4 separate regions of the Homo sapiens genome follow, and all the other regions are linked to region 1. The links come from fine-mapping of genetic effects on gene expression. A gene starts in region 1. Each other region holds a variant in brackets. All regions are shown on one strand. Distances are between the middles of the regions. Region 1 holds the start of RTKN2 (rhotekin 2). Region 2 overlaps ARID5B (AT-rich interaction domain 5B). Region 3 overlaps LINC02621 (long intergenic non-protein coding RNA 2621). Region 4 overlaps RTKN2 (rhotekin 2).

Region 1 (5,128 bases):
TAAAAAACAAGATGGGTATTATATACTTGTTTTATAGATAAGAAAACTGAGTGGCTTGCCCAAGGTAATCGGGCTAATAAATCCTCAGACTCCACATTCCATAGCCTCCTTCTGATTATGTGATGCTTCAGCTATTCATAGACATTCATTTAAGAAAATGCTGCACTTCTGCTTAGCACCTTGACCTCAGTTCCTTCTTTCTCTCTGTTTCTTCCATATATAATTCAAAATATAACTTTAATTTATTCAGTTCAACCTAAACAGATTATCTACAAGATGAACAGATGAGTAAAAGAAAGCACCAAGAGAATTTTTAAGAGGACTTTTTTTTTATAAGAGAGGCTAGGAGGATATTCAAAATCACAAGTTATCTGTTCTGTGTCAAACCACATTTTTCAAAATAATGGATCTGTTGTGTAACAGAGAGCTGATTTTAAGTTCAGTGTTTTCCTTTAGCCTCTTAGTTTAAAACAAGAATACAGAAAATAAGAGAAGAAAAATATACTTTGGCATCTATTGGTATTATCTAGATTGGCTTCTGTAGTTTTTAATTTATTATAATACTATCTGCTATATTAGGGATAACTAATATACGTATATTTTTAATTAGTATTAAATATTGACCTTATAGTGAGAAGTAATATTGGTAGGACAGTAATTCCATCACTCATCCTCTAGCTGAAGCTACTACATCTGGGCAGTTCGGTGGATATCGACCTTCTGTAAGAGCCCAGGGATGATGGGTTAAGAGATGCCCAAATGTTCTCTCTCAGATATTTGAGATGGTAAAACGTAGTACTTCTCACTTTCTGGGAACTGTAAAATAAATAGATTGATAGAGAAATCCTCAAGCTAATGAAGCCACTGCATATGAACTCTTTAAATTTTGTAGTTTCCATGGATGAGTATATTTTATGTGCATTACATACACCAGAGAAAACTGGCTGATGAAATTAGCAGTAACAAGTAAGGACTTGAGGATAAATAAGGAAACATAAGTCCTACTCCAAGGTATTTTAATCATCATATAATAATTAAGTACTTAAGCAATTCCTGGGGACCTCTCCCGGTGTATAATAAAAACAGGACCACATCATAACTTCTTCTCCCAAGAGAAAGGTCTCTTGTAACAACTGTATTCTACAGATAATTACTAAATATGATCTTGCCTAATCTCTTTCTTCTAGTATCATAAATAAATGTATCTCCAGTTAAATATCTGGTTTTAACTCATCAAATACTCCTCTATCAGTGTCCAATTCTAAACTGGTTGACTCACCTCTGTTTTAATGAAGTGCTGGCTTCTACATGTATTTTGATCTGCAACTGAGAGCTGTATGTGTTGTAAGTACTATGTGTCTGATGATGGGCTCGCGGTGTGTTTTTCTTTTGAGTCAGGTACTACAGCTAGGCTCATGCAGCCTCATACTGAGTAGGAGATAATTATACCACAAAGTGGTAGCATAAGACAGAGATGTGCATTGGAGGAAAGGGCACATAATGATTCTGAAATTCAGACCTGTGTTTGTAGAAAACGAGGTGAGCTCCGTGTTGATAATTTTGAACACATATTTTATTGTTGTAAGGATATGGGTCATTCATAATGCAAGGGGACCATCATTCCCAACTGGGAAGCTTCTAGTATCACCTAGTCCAAAAGGTCTTAAAGAGGCATTTTACCTATTTGAGGAAGGGTATCCATTATATTTTTAAAGTACATTCTCAAACCAACTGCTTTTAAAAGGGTCTTGCAGTTAAAATGACCACATAATATCCACTACGGGATAAGTGCAAGATTGGTGCAACATTGGGACAACAGACCCAGACAGGGTCTGTCCCAGGCAAATGAAAAAACATGGGCACCTATTTATGGAGGAAAAATGCCCAAGGGTTTCTAGGCGATGAGGGCTGGAGGGTTGATTTGGTAGACTCTTCAAGAAGAGGCTTCCTCTTGCCTTTTCAAGGGGGAAATAAAGATAAACTAGGGACAATGAATTTTAAGGACTTTTCAAGGGTGTGATATCTTTGCTGCTTTCATTTTGATTTTTAAAAATCCCATGTTTCCCTTTATAATTAACAAAATCCATGAATTAAAATGGGTCTTTGTGCTAATCTTTAGGGCAGCAAGAAATGAGGCTCTTGAGAAATAGTACCCCATTTTGCTATCACCTTAGATGTTGGAGAGGGAAAGAGAGGGCGAGAGAGCTGAAAGAAATCCTTCGCAAGAAAACAAAGTAAGTGGACAGAGTAGTTGGCGGGGAACATCTGGGATTATAAACACTGGGGGCAAAGACAAGACCTTGTGAAATGCCTGACATAGTATCTCACGAACCTGATGAATAAAACCATGATATCTGGGTGACCCTGGTGACAACGCTGGGAAAGGTGAGAGGAAACAGAGAGCGCTGTGTTTGAGAGTAATGTTATTGGTTCTTTAGGAACGAGACCGTGGGCTCTTAGTGACGCTGTGGGTTCCTGAGTTGTCTGGGAGTACAGGGACTGCAGCCTCGAGTCTGTCCAGCTACGATCACTTTGGAAGGCCTTCGGTGGGATGCGGGCAGAAAGCTCCCAGTGCAAAGGGCGTGCCACGAAAACCACCAGCCAGAAACCTGAGCTGGGACAGGTGCGCTCCGCCGCCGAAGCTTTCCCCGCGGCCCCTCCCACTCCCGTCCCAGGCCCGCCCACATCCCTGTCCGGGACTTAAGTCCGGCACCGCCGCCCTCTCCCCCGCCCCGCCGCGCTAGAGCCTGGGGTCTCGGCAACTTCCGGCGGCGGGAGCTGCAGAGCGCAAGGCGCGCCCACTGCGCGTGCGCTTCGGCCCGGCTCCTCCTGCGCCCCCGGCCCCTGCGACTGGGACTTGGTACGGCCGGGCGGTTGGCGTCCTCTGCGGCTCCTGCCAGGGGCGGGCTTTTCAAATCTTCCCTTTGAAGGAGTGGCGACGGCCCGGACAGTTCGCGTTGGAGATGGAGGGGCCGAGCCTGAGGGGTCCTGCGCTCCGCCTGGCGGGGCTTCCCACCCAGCAGGTGAGTTGCGGGAGGGACCCTGCCGCGGAAGGTGAGGGAGCCGGGGTTCTGTTCCTCGCGCATTTGCTTTGTGGAGGAGTCGGGAAAGCCTCTCCCCCGCTCCTCTATTTCAGCGGTGGCCAGAAACAAAGGGAGGGATTAGGAGACTGCGCTCTTGGGGCTCTAAAGGGCCTGGACATCGGAACCCCCGAGTTTCTCAGGCAGCTGAGGTCCGGATTGGGAAGGCGGTGCCGGGGTCCAGGCGCGCGTTTGCGGGCGCACCTGTCCGCTGCCCTCCCCAGGCTTTGGACGCCTGTCTTTTTGCAGGTGTAGGTGATGCCGGGGAAATGGGAGCCCCTCGATTCCCAAGAAACCCAGCGAGGCCAGTGGACAGCTGGCTTATTACGGATTTAATGGGAAGCACAGTAATGGAGCGATGTCTACACACAACACAGAACTGGTTGGGGGGAGGGGGTTCGGAGCGGAGTAGAGGCAAACAGCAACCTCTGCACTTTAGAAAAAGTTGAAGGTTTGATACTGGGTTCTTTCTCAAATCATTTGAAAGGAAAGAGGGAGTACACGTGACATTGGATAGAAGTTTGATGTTTGCTTTTGAGCCATGTAAAATGCGTTAGAAACCTTTTTATTTTACTTTTTACTAAACCAACATTATTTCTTGGCAGCATCAGTTATTAAAATGTTACCACTTTTCACTCTTAACCATAACTTTAGGGTCTTAAAAGAAAACTCTGATGTCTTTAAGCTGGACCTTCACTTCTATTTTAATCTCTACCTTCTTTTACCTACTTCAGAAATAGGTTAAGCCATATGAAATTGCCAGTTTTGTAGGTCAAAATTGGTAGAATATTTGCAATTTCATTCATATGGAGGCACCTGATATCTTTGTTTAAAAATCTGGGATTTCCTTAGCAGACACAAAATTATTAGTTTTCAATAATACTGTGAAAAATAAAGCAAGACATTAAGATTCATTATGCAAAAGAAGTCCAGTGTCTTTATCAGTAATACTTATGCTGTTTTATGCCAGCATTTTCAAAAATTTCAAAGATTTTGATGTACTTTTTTTCAGTCCTGTCCTGTTATGTACTTTGGCTGTCCTGATTGCTAACAAAATCTTGATTTATAGTGAATTGCCATTCTATTGATGTTCTTGCACCTATCATATAGGTGTAGGTGTAGCTGTCCAGGTGTATTTATTGAGCTGCAGGCTGCAAGAATAGGAATGGTACAGAAGCGACAAGAGGATAAAATCATGAAGTTTAGTTGCATGGAATGAAAATAAATGTTTAAATATACATAAAGCCTGGGTTATTTACATGTGGGAAGATACAATACTTAATTTCTTAGGCAGGACAAAATCAAAATGATTGAAATGTGGAATTACTTCCTCAGTTTGGATTTGAAGAAAAAACACAAAATAGTAGTAGGTTGCAACCTAACAGGAATATTGAGAGTCAGATAATTTTATACTTGACTAACACTGAATTTTTATTTGGTATTTCCTTTGATACATGAATGAAGCTGCCACGTAATCGAGATAAGGCCAAAGATTTTGAGGTGGTCACACACTGGTCAAACACCTCTGCTGAAACCCTGGAGTCCTCTGCGACTCCTCACAGCATAGAGTATTGGCTTTGGAGTCAGATTCAGGTCAAACCAAACTCTTCTTGTTGTGCAACCTTGAATAAGTTATCTCTGTTTTCTAAGTTTCAGTTTCCACCGTTGTAGCTTGGGTATTCCGCCTATCCCAGACAGCTGTTGGAATTGGAGAACCTCTCTAAAGTACTTATCACAGCACCTAGCACTCAGGATGTGCTTCAGAGATGACTATTGTTGTTATTATCCTTTGTCCTATTCATCTGAGTGGTTAGGGCAGTCCCCTACTTTTCTTACAAATGTTTAAGCTTTTGGCATCTTAATAAAAATAAAATTCAAAAAGTAATACTATCTCATTGCAGAAAAGTCAACATATACAGAAACATGAATTTAAGAATTCGGTCTCCAGTTCCATTCCCCAGAATGGCCGCTGTTAACAATTTCCAGACTTTTTTCTGTACATAAACAATTCTTAAAATCCACACAGTTTCTTTTAGCAAAATGAGAAC
Region 2 (5,155 bases), 210 kb after region 1:
TTTAGCTCAAGACATGCTCTTGGAGCCTTGATTTCTCTATCTTTGAGGCTGCAGGAATGAAATAATTCTGGTATTTTTGCAGCCTGGTGAGGAAATAGGTATCAGAAATCTTTCAGACTTAAACTCTTTCAGTGGCTTAAGAATGTGTAGGAAATACGAAGTCAACAGAAGAGTTTGCCTGAAAGCAATGTTGCCTGGGCTGTTCTGAGAAACAGCTTCTTTCTCAGGACACCTTGAGGGTGGACTGAATTCAAGGAAGATGACTTTCTTTTCCTGGTAGTACTCCAGGAACTGGAGCCTTTCAAAACTACATGACATCATCTTTGGCCTGGAGAATTTTGAATTTAAGCGAGAGGCTTTGCCTGTTCAGAAAACTAGGGTTAGATTCAGAGGATGTCTTAAAAATGATGTCAAAGCCAGAATTTGATGTCAAAGCCTAATCCTTTCAGCAAGGAAAGAGGCTTCTTCCAGATGAAGAACAATGGCCCTGTCTCACTGGTGGCAGGAGAAAGGGTTGCTAACTGACATTCTTAGAAGGCACCACTGTGTATCACCCTGTGCCTTGAGGACAAGATGTACTCAAGACCCATTTCCCAACTCTACCTTCTCTCCAGATACTGCCTCTGGCTTGCCATCAAGTGGTTAGCCAAATGGAAATCACTTTAGCAAACCACCGCCATATGCTGCATCCTGGTAATACCCCAAGCTACTCTTCCAGCATTAATTGCTTCACCAGACACTGAAGTGAAAGCCTTTTTAGTTCATCAGCAAAGATTTATCCAGCTCTACCTCTTCAAATGTAGGTGATCCACATTCTAATGTTTGGAAGGAAAAGTTGGGTACATTGCAAAGGAAGGGTCCTCGTCAATTAATCAAAATGCCAGAATATTGTTTTGTAGGAAATCAAATCCATTCAATATATTTATGCTCTCTCAACCTAAGGATGAAGAAACACTCTATACATTTCCAGCAAAGGCAGAAGAGACTGAGAGAACTGCATATAGCCATTAGTCAAATGCTATAAAGGCTTACAATGAAACTTCTGCTCCTCTTTTTTTTTTTTTTAATTCAATTTGATGGTTGTAGAGGACTGAAATGAAATAATCCATAATCCGCAATTCAAACCAGAAGGTTTGGAATAGTTTATAACCACAAACAAAAACAAGCCAATTAAGATGGCCTCTTTTTATAACCAGAAGGGATTCCAGAGAGATGTCTTTATCCAATCACAAGTTAACCGCAGAAGCAATACATCTACAGCTTTTATACTTGCAGTTTTTTACTATTATTGAATATTTACATTATCCATACTTCTTGACTCATCTCCTGAATTCACACATTTTGTTCTCAAGAGTCAGATAAAAATCTCAGCTAGTAATTAGTACATCTGGTAAAGCTCATGTTAGATACAAAAAACAGACTAAAAGAAGCTACAAATGTTAAATACAAAGAAGAGACTAAAAGATGCTACAAAACAGACTAAAAGATGCTACAAAAGGCAGGTTATCAGATCCTTTCCCCAAAACATTGCCCCAAATATGTAGGAGGCATTTTAGATTAGTGATTGCTAGGAATGGAAAGCCACAAAGAATAATCATTTATAAATCTCTTTCAGCAACGCTACAGAGGGTGAGACAATTGTGTACCAAATTCTCAGTGAGTCAGAATTTGAAGAAAGCCATGATGATCCCATGCAACTCATTTCATCTCCCAGTGCCTCAGTTTTCTCGCTTGTAAAATGAGGCTATGAACTGGGGCACAGCAGGCATACTTTTTTTTTTTTTTTTTTTTTTTTTGCACAAAGGCCAATTTGAGAAAAAATAATTTGAGAGTACTACAGTTCTACACTTCCCCTCATTGAAAACAAAAATAGTTTACTGAGTTCCAACTTAGACTACCATTTTACCAAATGCAAAAATACTTGTCAGAAACTCTCTGCTGCTCTTGAGCC[G/A]AAGGAATATGAGTATTCTACCCTGTTTCTGTAGTAATGGCATGAAGAAAAATCTTTGATACTTGACTTAGATAGGGGTCACACTCTGAAGCTAAGAGCCATGGGAAACACTTGGCTAAGTGTTACTTATCACTGTTATCACTGGATTTGAATTAACATCACCTGGGCAGCTTAAAAGAAAAGGATTCTCTGCTTCTCAGGCCCATGCCCCACCACAGTTTATATCTTGGGGTGGGGGTCTAAACAACCACTTAAAGTTCCCCATTAAAAACATGAGCCCTATTCTTGAGTAGCTTTTAGGAGCCACTGATCTAGAAGACTCTAAGATCTCTTTTGAGTTCTAAATGACTACAAGTCTACACTCGTTTCTGATATCAGATCATGTCAAAGATAAGTGTCCTCTAGTAACTCTGTGATGACAGCTTAAGCCTTCAGACTTTGGATATTATTTGTACATCTCCTGGACTGACTTCAAAATTCAATGCCCATTGAACATCTCACAGTTTTATTAGTCAAAATATGCCAAGAGAAAAATGTATTCTGTACTTATAGGAGGTTCAGAAGCTTAAATGTAGAATAGTGGTGGCAAACTGAAGTATCTGCAGGGCCAATCTATAGCATGAAACATTTAAAAAGAAAGAAAGAAAAAGGAAGAAGGAAGGAAGGAAATGAGGAAGGGATGAAGCAGAAATGCCTTTTAAAATTCTGTTCATGACCAGATGGAGAGCAGATGCCAATTTGATCCTCCATATTCCCCAGCCCCAGTGAAGGGGATCAGAATATGTCACCCCTAAATTATGCCACGTTGGCATAAAGATTATTTTGAGATGAGGGCAACAGAGAACCAACAGATGCAGGAAGAGTTCTCTGCCCTCCCCTTATCTGCCTATCTGCCTAAAAGGAGGGCATAAATTTCCCATTGAGAAGGCGCCCACACAGTACCAGAAAGAGGGGCGACTCTTATCACCAGAGATGGGGAACTGGCAACTTTCCATAGTTCCCACAGCCTAATGAATAACTTTGGGGCATGGCATGGGAGGGCATAGCATCTGGAGGCTCAGCATGAAAGGGCCTAGCATCTGAAGGCCTAACATCAGGGAGCTAGCATCGGAGGACTTTCCTCACTTGGTTCCATCTTCTCTCCATCCTTCTCTCTAGAAACTTCCCTTCAGGGCCACTTGTCCCAGCCACCTCATCACTCTATTTTATGTTTTTCAAACTCTCCATGCCCAACCTTATTCTACCTCCATATATTTTCCCTTATTTGATTCATTCTCTCTTTCTGGAAGGCATAATCCATCATTCATGTCTAAATTTTATCCATTCCCCAGAATTCTTCCCAAATGGCCTCAGAGCCATCAAGCCTTCCTTCTCTCATCTCTACGTGAGTAAGTACTTTACCTGTGTAGGGCACTGACCTTTTTCCACCTTGTTTGATCATTATTGGCTCTCTTGGATGGTAAGCAACTTAAGGACTGAAATTACTGGCCTGACTGAAACCTTGCATCTAACAGTGTCTAAAACAATGCCTCATACACATAAGGTACTCAGTAAATATGTGGTCAGGTGTTTTGCTGATTGTGTGGTCATTCATTCATCCAACAAAAGGATAAATACTATTTGTTCAAAGAGTACTGCAAATGCCCTGAAATTTATTAAACTTTCTTCTGTACATTCTACATCAACTTGCTGTTGCATGGAAAAAAAATCTTTGTGAAGATACAGAAGACACAAAAGCAGGAAAAACTGATTCTGTGAAATTGTTGGCACTCTCCCTATCAGTGAATAACAAAAAGTTCCAGAGTGTGAAAAGACGTTTCATAATATTGTTCAATATCATATAACTATCTGCAGTCATGGTTCATATAAAAACGTATATTCCTATTCTAAACATTAAAAGCTAGACTTGAAAGTCTAGCCTATTGGGTTGACTTCTACGTTTATGAGACTAACCCTGAATAAGTTACCATTTTTTTTTACATGAATGAGGGCTATAATTAGCTCAAGATTTTGCCATAAACTATGAGCTACAGTGGCAAGGAGTTCATATCCTGATCCTATCAAAAGACTCCACTAAGTGAAAAATTACTATTTTTACATAGGTCACTTGATAAAATAAATATTTCAAGTAAATTTATGAATATGAAATGCACATTTTATATGTAGTCCATGTGACTATATTTCTTTATAAACATGTGTACATACGCCATATATGAAACATATTACAAGCACATATTATTCATATGAAAGAATTTTTAGTCGGAATTCATAGCAGATAGCTCAACAGAAAATACCAGATTATCTGAACCACATAATGCTTGTCCTCTTTCCCCATCCCAAGACCCGCACATCAAACCATTATATTAGTTTGTGGAACAATGTGCTTTATCTGGCAAGAAGCACTGGTTATTACGTTTGGGCTAAAATGAATTTCATTTTCTTGACTTTGTGTGTCTTACTGTCATTTTACTATGGTACAGAGATATCCCAGATTACTTCTCAGGGAATGAAAAAATAAGTTCTTATTCAATTGCAAGAAGAAACTACACAACTTAATCTGATCATTGTGTGGAGGAGAAAGTATTCCCAATGACAACATCTTCCTATGTCAATTGATTATATTACAGATGTCATCTCTGTGGGTTATATTTATGCAGCTCTTTCTTATTTAAAGATTTTAATCTCAGTTTGTTGCTGTAATGTTTCATTGGTTCAAAATACATGCTGTAAAAATCCGTGGCCATCAAATTTTCCTGTGGGCTAAAAATAACCCATTGCTGTCAGTTAGAATTAGCTGATAAAGAGTGTCAGAGCCTGTTCCGAATAAGTTTGATAACTTCCTGTTTATGCAGCACTGACCCTTGTCTAATAAAGCTTCTTTGCCCTAGAATGAGAGGAGATTCTGCTGCATTCTATTCCTTAATGGCCAATACTGATTACTTTTGAAAGCCTTTAATACATTTCCCATATTAGACATGAACAGATGTCAGGTATGTTGCCAAGGGAAATTTCTTTTATGCAATCTTGGCTTGTTGTACAATAATAGCCCTTTCTCAACATGGGAAAAAATTACAGACCCAACTAATTTCCCTGACAGGGGAGAGTTACATATGTTTTCCACTTGTAGTTTTTACGACAAGTTTACAATTTTGCCAAACCTGGAACTAATTGGGACTGTTTCCAAAGCGGCCCAATAAACCCCCA
Region 3 (5,156 bases), 28 kb before region 1:
GCATCACATCAAAGCTCCAGACAGAAAGAAGCAGGGAAAGGCAAGTGCCTTCTATTCATAATGTTTAGTTTAGTTTAGTTTAGTTTTAATTTGACAACAGAAGACTTCCACAGTAAATGGACAGAACAGGGTCAGATGACAATCTTTAGACCAATCACTGACCAGGGGACATCATGACGGCCAAAGAGCTCTTTTTAAAACAAATTGCAAATCATGTCTTCAAATCCTCCAGCAGTTTCCCATTGTAGGTAGGGTAAAAGCCAAAGTGTAGTGGGCCTACACAATCTGACCTCCTCCTACTCATCTTCTGTGTTCCCTGTCTGATTGGGTCTCTTTCTGTTTTCCCCCTCTCTGTTCCAAACCTCCTGGCTTCTTTGCTGGTCTTTGAACACACCCAGGCTGACTTTTCCTCAAGGCCTTCCAGCCTCCAGATACTGGCATGACTCACTCCCTTCTCCTACGGGTCCCCTCTAACCATCCTATGTAAAAGAACCACCATCCCTGACCTCTCAATACATCATTTCCTAGCTCACCTTGCTTAATTGTTCTCCCTAGCCCACCTTCTGACATAGTCTCTTGGCTTATGTACTTAGTTATCGTTCATCTCCTCTCACTAAAATATAAGCTCCTTGAGGGCAAGAACTTTATCTGTTTCATTCAGAGCTGTATCCTTAATGATTACAATTATGCCTGATTCATAGTAAGTACTCAATTAACAATTGTTGAATAAATGAATGAATTACCGCACTAGTCTAAAGTCTCATGATTCACCCTTAGGGTTGAAGAAGAGGCCAATCTTTCCTATGGTCAGGGATCTGTCCTGTCTAACTGAACAAGTCTGACTATTAGCAAGGAAGAGAAGGAGGGAATGGCTACTGACTAGGTAGCTTGTAGTGGCTGCCACAACATTCTTACTTGGGAAGTTGAAACAGTAGAAACATTCTGTTGGTTCCACCCCATTTTTAAAACAACTAAAACCAAAATTATAGTATCTAGAAAACTTCCTGGTAACCAACATTATTGCCACTCTATCTTTTCACCTTTGCCCTTCAACAGGACTAGTGACCTTAGTCCTCTCCCCTTCTGCACTGGATGGTCCTTCCAGGTACATGACACTTCTTAGCTGTCAGCCTTCTCTGCGTTGACTCCCTGAAAGCTTCCACTTCCCAGAGCTACCCTGTGGGCAGTTCCTTTTCCACACCCCAATTCCCACCAGATGTGGAAGATGGAACCCAAAAAATAAGGGGCTCTCCTGTATGTCTTGATCATAAATTCCTAAGAAGCAAACCATTAATAATGGCTTATAGCATGGACTTGAAACAAAATATATTAGAAGGCACATGCAAGAAAACGTTTAGTAACAAAATAATTTCAAAATTATTTAAGTAGAATTCCTAGAAGATAAATTCTCATTCTCTTTATTTACTGATTAGAATCAAGATATCAAGATTTTAGTCCTTGGTCAGCAACTGCCGCTGGAAATGTAATTAGATTCGAAATAACACATTCTAAATTTATCTTTTAACTCTCACAAATTGTATTCTGCCTCTAAACTTTATCCCTGAGCCTCCACTCCTTCTCCCTGGGTTGTTCCAAACTTTCATTTACCTTTATGATTAACCTCAAAAACTTCTCTTTTTAAAGCAAAATGGTGATCTAATGCCAAGAAACTGGGAGCATGGTTCCTGATTCTGTGTTGCATAATTCGAAGAGTGGATGTACCCACAATGTGGAGAACAGTCAGCGGGGTTGTGGGTGGGAAACAAGAGAAAGGAGGACAGATTCCCCTGTCCCCAGCATGCACGGAACATCTGTTCGTTTATATTAAATGGAAAGTCAGGCTCACCACAGCATGGCAACCCAACTTCTGAGGTATAATTGCGTAGTTAATATTCAAAAGAAATAGTATGCTCTGTAAAAACCAACAATTTTCTCTTGGCAAGTGGGACTTTACTTTTGAAATTTTATGTAAGATTAAATAACCACTTATCATCATTTCAGCACTGAATTTCAAAACAGACCTAAAGGTGTTTTGTACTCATTCGGTATTAATAATTAACAGGGAGATGGCCTTCTCATCCCCCGTTCCCTGCTTGGTGCATGTATGCATGGACATGTGTGGTGGACATACATTCATTAAACTAAGAATTGAGTGCCTATGAGTGGGCACTCTAGGTGGAGATGATGGTGTTCAAGATCCATGGGGCCCCTGCTTTCCGAGAGTTTACATTGTGGTGGGAAGTGACAGTAAATAACCATCATACAGGCAGAAAAGTGTCAGATATAGATGAATGACAGGTTCTACAATAAAGGGATATATGTACACTCCCTTGCATGCACATACTCCCCAGCCCCTAACACATGCTATGTTTAGATGTTCAGATAATATGTCTAGGGTTTGATAACACTTTT[T/C]CCCCACTTTAATGCATGTTCTTTCTTGAAATTTGGAGGAAAAAAAAAAACCTATAATGAAAAAAAAAAAATCATCACCACTAATCCCACCATACAGATATACTGGATGCCGCCCATGTGCCCCTGCAAATCCACTCTCCTGCTTTCTTCACCCTGTGTTGTCCCCTCGGAGCCTGATCTGTAGGGGCTGCATCAACCAGCTTCCTTGCCTTGTGCCTTCCAGTTGGGCTTGGACAATGGGAGGCACCAGCAGGAGAGTGGAGGGGTGGAGGAGAGAGACTGGGGTATTTACTCTCCTTGTTCACTCCCTACTGCATCTGTCTATGAAAGGGCTCCTGTCAGACAGCCCACTGCACACAGCCACCCACTTGGGTTCTGGCAATCTCTCTCTTTAAATCCTTCTCACATCTTTGTAAAATGTTCCTTTATTAAATGCTTTTCAAAATACCTAGTCTGAGTGTGCTAACCATATCCTGTCAGGAATCTGACTCAAAGACCAGAGATAATATCTTGTATATTTATTTTCTAATATGTTTCTAGTAACAAATATTTATAGTTTAGCTCATGCTTTTGTCACTTAATGTTATATTGCAAACATTTTGCCATATTATTAAATATTATTTTAAAAGATTACTTACATGGTAATATTTATTCCATTCATAATTTAAGCCTTTATGATTATTGAACACTTGGATTATTTCTATTTATTATATAAACAACTGTGATGAATAGCCTTATTTGTATTTTTATTCTGTTTAAATAGATATTTCCCCACACTGAGGCTATGAATACATTCTTCCATATTGTCTTCCAAAAGCTTTATTGTTTTGTCTTTCATATTTAGACCTACAATATAACTTGTAGTTGATCTTTCTTCTGTATAGGCACTCAGGCTGTCCCAGCACCATCTATTTAAATGACCATCCTTTGTCCATTGCTCTGTAATGCCACCTTTTTCATAAATTAGATATCTGTCTATGCATAGATCTATTTCTGGGCTTCAGTCTATTTCATTGGTCTGTCTAATCTTGTGAAAATACCATACCATTTTAATTAATATAACTTTACAATAAGTCTTGATATCTAACAAAATAGAACCTTTCACCAAGTTCTTTCTTTTCAAAATTGTCTTGACTATTCTTTTATTTCTTTAGGAGCATAGGGAGTGCTGGGAGGGTTTTTCTATTTTGTTTTTAATTTTTTAAAAATAAACATGATAATATTGATTTTTTGAAAGAGTATAGTTCTGTGAATTTTGACACAAATATAGATTCATATAACCACCACCACCAAAGTCAGGATATAGACAGTCCCGCAACACCAAAAAAAAAGTCTCATGCTACCCCTTTGTAGTCATATTCTCCCTCAACCCCAACCCCTGGCAAACACTGGACTGTTCTCCATTGACATAACTCTTTCTTCTTAAAAAGATCATCTACATGGAATCATATAGCATGTAACATTTTGAAATTGGCTTCTTTAACTCAGCACAATGTCTTTGATATACACTCAAGCGGCTGTGTGTATCAATAGTTTGGTTCCTTTTTGTTACTGAGTAGTATTCAATTGGATGTTTGTACCACTGTCCTGTTTACACATTCACTTTTTGAAAGGTGAACCACAGTTTTGTTTACCTATTGACCCTTTGGGTGGTTTCCAATTTTAGCTATTATGAAGAGAACTGCTATAAACATTTGTATATAGATTTTTACTGGAACATAGGTTTTCATTTCACTTGGGTAAATACCTAGGAGTGAGATTGCTGGACCATAAATGTATGTTTAATTTTATGAGAAACTGCCAAACTCTTTTCCACAGTGGTTGTACCATTCTGTATTCACACTGGCAATGTTTGAGAGTTTCCGTGGCAGAACATTTAGAGTTTCAGTGGCAGAACATTTGATATTACCTTTTTTTAAACTTCTAATAGCCTTAAAGTGATATCTCATTTGTTTTAATTGGCATTTCCTATGTGTCTAACAATGTTGAGCATCTTTTCATGTGCATATTTGCCTTTTGTATATTTTTTGTGATGAAGTGTCTAGTCAAGTCTTTTGCTCATTTTTTAACTTAGGGAGTTTGCTTTCGTATTGTTGAATTTTATGTATACTGGATACAGGTCTTTTTTGTAGAATATGCGATTTGAAAATATTTTATCTTACTCTTTAACTTCTCTTTTCATTCTCTTAAGTGTCCTTCACAGAGAAAATATCTTTTAATTTTGATAAATAATCATTTATAAATATTTCCTTTATGAATTATGCTTTTGGTATTATATATATATATAATCCATTTTATATATATATATATATATTAAATGGAAAGACAGGCTCACCACAGCATGATAAACCAACTTCTGAGGTATATATATATATACACATATATATACCTATATATATATATACACACACGTATATATACCTATATATATATACACATATATACCTATATATATATACACACACACATATATATGCCTGAGGTATATATATAAAATATAGATATATATTTTTTCCCTACTCCCAAGTCGTGAAGATTGTTAACCTACGTTTCATTCTAAAAGTGTTAGGTTAAATTATTCATTTAAAATTAATTTTTGAATAAAGTGAGAGGTTTAGGTCAAAATTATTTTGCATGATTTTGTTTTATTTTGTTTTTGCCTATAGATCAAATTGCTGCAGCCCCTTTTGTTGAAAAGACTATCCTTTCATCAATGAATTTATTTTGCACCTATGTCAAAAGTG
Region 4 (5,156 bases), 50 kb after region 1:
AAACTCTTTTCCCTAACCTATGTGCTATTGTTATATATTGTAATTCTTTTTTTTTTTAGTACTTATTTAGATTTAATATTTATTTAGATTTACCTACATGTTTCTGTGCACTACTTGTATCTTATGCCTTGCATCTGGGATACTTTTCCCTCTGCTTGAATTATAAGCCTTAGAATTTCTTTTAGTGAGTTATGCTGATATCAGACTTCTTGTTCTTTTTGTTTATCTGAAGATGGCTTTATTTTGCCTCATTATTGAAGATATTTCTTAATTCTGCAGTTTTAATTTTTTCTTGTTGAATATTGAACATATAATTCCAACATTTTTGGCTTTTATTATTTTACTATAAATGTTGTAAATCATTTGCCAGTATGTCACCACTATGAGTGTAATCTTTTTATTTATTTTTGCCTTTGGTTTTCTAAAATTTTACCATGGTATAATTAGGTGTAGAGTTTATTTATGCTGCTTGGGGTTTCTTGAGCTTCTTTACATTGTTGATATGTTTCATCAGTTTGGACAAAATCTCTCCTACCTGTTTGAAACTGCCTCTGCTGTTGTGTAGCTTTTGTTCTTTTTGCATGCCTGTTAAACCTATGTTAGTCTTTTTCATTGTATCCTTCGTGTTTCTTACTCTTTATGATGTACTTTTCAACTAACTTACAGATTTTTAGAACATAAGCTATTCATAAATCTGAGATTGCCTATATAAAGAAATTTGCTTTCAAACTTCTAAATTTACAAATCACAAAGTTGATTTCAGATGTATTACTGAAATACATGCTTTTACAGAATTTTCATTTCATTTGCTGCCTGTTTTAGGAAAGATAACTTTTGTTTATTTGTGTTTGCATTTTGGAATTGTATGTATTATGCTCGTGCATTTATTTTTCCCAGATTAAGCCCCTTATTTCTAAAATATAGCAGCTTTAAAATGTATTAATGAAAAAGATTTGAATAGTCTCAGAACATTGTTGTGTACTATTCTATAGTAGAATCTTGGGTAGGTAAATTTAAAACTTTTTGGTTTTACTACAAACCTTTGCTGCCTTGCATGTATATATTAACTATTTTTACAAAAAAAATTCTGGGGTAATTAAAACTTTTTGGTGAATAATAGTTACGGCCAGTAGCTAGCGATTTTGTAGGCACTACCAACAGGGCACAGCCAAAACTTTAAAAATCATTTTTATGTGATCCAGTGTGAACTAAGGGCCATATGTTTGGTTTTTATTTATACTCTGATGTCTAGAATAAATTATTTAATGCTTTCCTCCATATAGATAGGTAGTACACAGGTAGGTATCTTCATTAAAGGACTATCTTAATGTTTTTTGAAGTAACTTTTTTAAACAATGTCAAACTTACAGAAAAGTTGCAAGTTGAATGTCAAGATTTTTTTTTTTTAATTAGAGATGGGTATCGGTATATTACCTAGTCTGGCCTCAAACTCCTGGGTGCAAGCACTCCTCCCACCTTGGCCTCTGGAGTAGCTGGGACTACAGGCAGACACCACCACACTCAGCTTAAATGTCAAGATCTTTTTTTTCTCAAAAAAATTATGACAGCAAGTTGCTTACATGATAGTCTGTACCCCAAAATGTATTAATACATATTTCCTACTATCAGGACATTCAGCTACATCATCATCACTCTTGAAGTCAAGAAATGAATACTAATACATTACCACCATATAATCCTCAGAGTCCATTCAAGATGTTGCCCATTGTCACAATAATGTTCTTTATGGCAGAGGGATACAATGCAGAATCATACATTTCATTTAATTATCATGCTTTTTAATTGTCCTTCAATCTGGGCTACTTCTTCATTCATTGGGCTCTAATGTTCGATGTCAGGCTCCTCTTCCCAGGCATATCTCTTTTACCCTGCTTGCTCAAGACAGAGTCCCAAATCTAGGCTGCGCCCCAGTGTCATCACCCTCTCAGGCCCTTCAGGTGCTGATACCTCCTGCAGGCAGCCCCTGCTACTCACCATTCTCATTCTGCCTGTCTCCATCATCCATTTCTAGCACACCACAGCTCCTTCTCCAGTCCTGGCACAGATGTTCATGTTGGGGGCTCTATCTAATGGCTTATGACTGAATTGTTCAGCAAAAGAAGGGGAGGAGGAAGGGCCAAAAATGTTGATGAAGTTATCTTAAGTTCTCTGAAATAATGTTTTTTGTTTTTGTTTTGCTTTGTTTTTGAGATGGAGTCTTGCTTTGTTGCCCAGGCTGAAGTGCAGTGGTGCAGTCTGAGTTCACTGCAACCTCCGCCTCCTGGGCTCAAGCGATTCTTCGGCCTCAGCCTCCCAAGCAGCTGGGACTACAAGCATGCACCACCATGCCCAGCTAATTTTTGTATTTTTAGTAGAGACAGGGTTTCACCATATTGGCCAGGCTGATCTCAAACTCCTGACCTCAAGTGATCCGCCTGCCTCGGCCTCGCAAAGTGAAATAATGTTTTATTCAGAGGATCACTTTTCTAATTATTATAATGAAAATCAGAACAAAAAGTAGAATTTGACAAACATAAATTACTTTATTAGAATGTTTTTATATTAAATGAGATCACTTATATTCTCTGAACAACTTTCATTGAATAATTAAAATCAAACAAGAGACTAAACAGTTCATTTTTATTCAGGTGATAGCATGCTATAAACTGTCAGTTTAATATTATCCTGTCCTTTCTATTCTCATATTTGATTTTCTCACTTAATATGGCACTGGTATTTGGGTAGGATGAATCTTTACATGAAACTAATTCTAAAATATGTTCTGTACAAAGCAAAACAAAATTGTAAAAAGAGAAAAATCAAAATGTATGATGACCTTAAATAAACTTATATTTATAACTTGATTTTTTTTTTTCTTTCTCCTTTAAATAGAGGAGTCTTCATTTTGGCTTCCCCTGTATGGCAACATGTGCTGCCGACTAGTTGCCCAGCCAGCTTGTATGGCTGAGGATGCATTTGCAGGATTTCTTAATCAGCAGGTTAGAGGACTTTAAATATCCTACAACAATTGTAGCTCTACTTTAAATCTTAATATACAGGCAGTTGTTTCACCTTCTGATATTGAGAAGTATTTTTTAAGTCTTTTTTTA[A/G]ATGTCAGTTTTCTAAATGTTATCAGATATAAACTGTAGGGGGTGCGGGGTGAAAAGAATGACAAGGTAGGGAGGGATCTACTGCGATGTTGATGGCTAAGGCGCTACCTCTCCATGCTCCTCTGCTTCATTAATAGCAGCAACAGGATAATCAGCAACAGAGGGCTCCGTGTGGAAACTGATGAGGGCTGCTCAACACCTTTCACATAAAGGTCTTTCTGGCAGACAGCGTTTGGCACGGTTTAGGACTCTGAGCTTCCAAAGCTGCCTGCCTCTGTGCCACCTACTGCTGATTTATTTATAACCATAGTTATTTATATTCAGTAAATAATTAATTGTGAACTTCAATGAATCAATAGCTTTTTCTAAAAGATTCCATTAGGAGGAAAGAAAATTTGCATTCTTAAAGGGTAGTTGACATTTTCCGATGCTCTGAGAACAGTAAGGGAAAATAATATTTTGAACATACAGAATTGTTTTTATAATTTTCCTGAGTCATTTGATGAATTGCTATAGAATTCTAAGCACTAATTTTTAATCGACTAGCTTTTCTAAAACACCATTGATCTATGGTTTTATGTGTGTAAAAGTTAGGTGGTAATCGTTGCCTCCATTTCACTTAATGCCTTTAAGAATTCCAAACTTTTCTTCTCTGATATTAACATACTCTTGGATTTGGGGCAATTAACCTTTTGTATATCAAATTAATGGATAATTCCATCACATTTTAAAAATTCTAAATAACTAATTTAACCTTGATAAGTATTTTGATGTATTTAAAGTGATAATAACTTAAAATTGATAGTCTCTTGATTTTTTTTTTTTTTTTTTCAGCAAATGGTAGAAGGTCTGATTAGTTGGAGAAGGTTGTATTGTGTTTTGCGAGGAGGTAAACTCTATTGTTTTTACAGTCCAGAGGAAATTGAAGCTAAAGTGGAACCAGCTTTGGTAGTACCCATTAACAAGGTAAAGGAAATGCTATTTTGAGAAAAAAATATACATCTTAGGAAGTTTGTTTTTGTCTGTGCAGTTTACATTGTTGTTGTCTTATAAATAAAAGAGAAGTACTGGTAAAAACAGGTTACTTCATAAATATGATTTAATCTGTTTCTGTTTTTCTATTAGAGCTTATCTGTTATAAGAAAATGTATATTTCCTAAGAAAACATAGTAATGGACATCTATACCAGTAAATAGGTTTTAAGGCAGAGAATGTAACTCCACATTAGCAGTATATTTAAATTTTTTATGAATTTACTTAAGAGATTAAACATAAATTGTTAGCTCATGTTATTATAGTGATGCTGTTTCTAGTTAGCATTCAAATGAAGCCATAAAAAGACATTCTTGACTATACTTTCTGATTTCTTATGGGATTGATAGGCAATTGTCCAGTCTTCTGACAGAACAGAAAAGCCTGACAGTCCATTTAGAATAGTTGAGTGCTTATACTGCATTTAAAAAGTAGTACCACACTACCTAGAAAATTTGTCAAGTATATATATACTGGTTTGTTACAAAGGAGACTATTGAAATCTAGCTACAATTTTTTCATCTAGAATCCTATAGGAAAACTTCAATATAAGGCAAACTTAGTTTCTTCTACCTCACGGTCTTAAATTTAGCTTTGTCTGTTATTCAAGTCTAGTGTTGATTAGAGGATTTTTCTTTCCTCATTTTTTAGAGCATTCCTACTCTAAAATAATTGCATTTCTAAACCAAAATATCATGGTTTTTGCCTGTGGGCTGCCCCTAATTGTTTCTAGTTGTTCTACTTTGCTTGTCTTTGGTGTAGTTGAAGTGTGTGATAAAACATGAGCCATCACATTTGTTCTCCTTGTCTTTGAAATTATCCTTTAAAGAAGAATGTAAAGTTGTACGTCCTTTTATATAATAGTTGTATTCCTGAAAACGCGTGGGTACCAGTCTACTGATCTATAAAGACTTGAGTTTAGTTTCATGATCTTTTCCAATAATAACATTTTTGTCTGTTTCTATTCCACTTTTAGAAATTACACTGCTTTTTACTTACAGAAAGTCTTTTAGT

The links. PIP is the estimated chance that this variant, and not a neighbour inherited with it, causes the effect. A credible set is the group of variants that fine-mapping cannot tell apart.
Region 2: its variant is the best candidate, but not a certain one, in a credible set for the expression of RTKN2 in whole blood (INTERVAL, PIP 0.79).
Region 3: its variant is the best candidate, but not a certain one, in a credible set for the expression of RTKN2 in esophagus mucosa (GTEx, PIP 0.59).
Region 4: its variant is the best candidate, but not a certain one, in a credible set for the expression of RTKN2 in whole blood (TOPMed, PIP 0.73).

What each region holds. Positions count from the first base shown.
Region 1 is chr10:62,266,446-62,271,573 of GRCh38, reverse strand. RTKN2 (rhotekin 2) reads left to right here and starts at 2,730. Exons shown (of 12, transcript NM_145307.4): 1 at 2,730-3,023. The coding sequence starts at 2,964. All of the region lies in intron 1 of LINC02621 (long intergenic non-protein coding RNA 2621), which reads right to left. RefSeq lists a silencer at 2,649-2,978.
Region 2 is chr10:62,059,421-62,064,575 of GRCh38, reverse strand. The region is part of intron 7 of ARID5B (AT-rich interaction domain 5B); the gene reads right to left. Among named protein-coding and RNA genes, the nearest start is that of ARID5B, 160 kb to the right of the region's middle. The variant G/A (reference allele first, on the strand shown) is at 1,952.
Region 3 is chr10:62,294,700-62,299,855 of GRCh38, reverse strand. All of the region lies in intron 2 of LINC02621 (long intergenic non-protein coding RNA 2621), which reads right to left. Among named protein-coding and RNA genes, the nearest start is that of RTKN2, 28 kb to the right of the region's middle. The variant T/C (reference allele first, on the strand shown) is at 2,413.
Region 4 is chr10:62,216,038-62,221,193 of GRCh38, reverse strand. It overlaps RTKN2 (rhotekin 2), which reads left to right. Exons shown (of 12, transcript NM_145307.4): 8 at 2,893-2,999; 9 at 3,945-4,076. Among named protein-coding and RNA genes, the nearest start is that of LINC02621, 41 kb to the left of the region's middle. The variant A/G (reference allele first, on the strand shown) is at 3,111.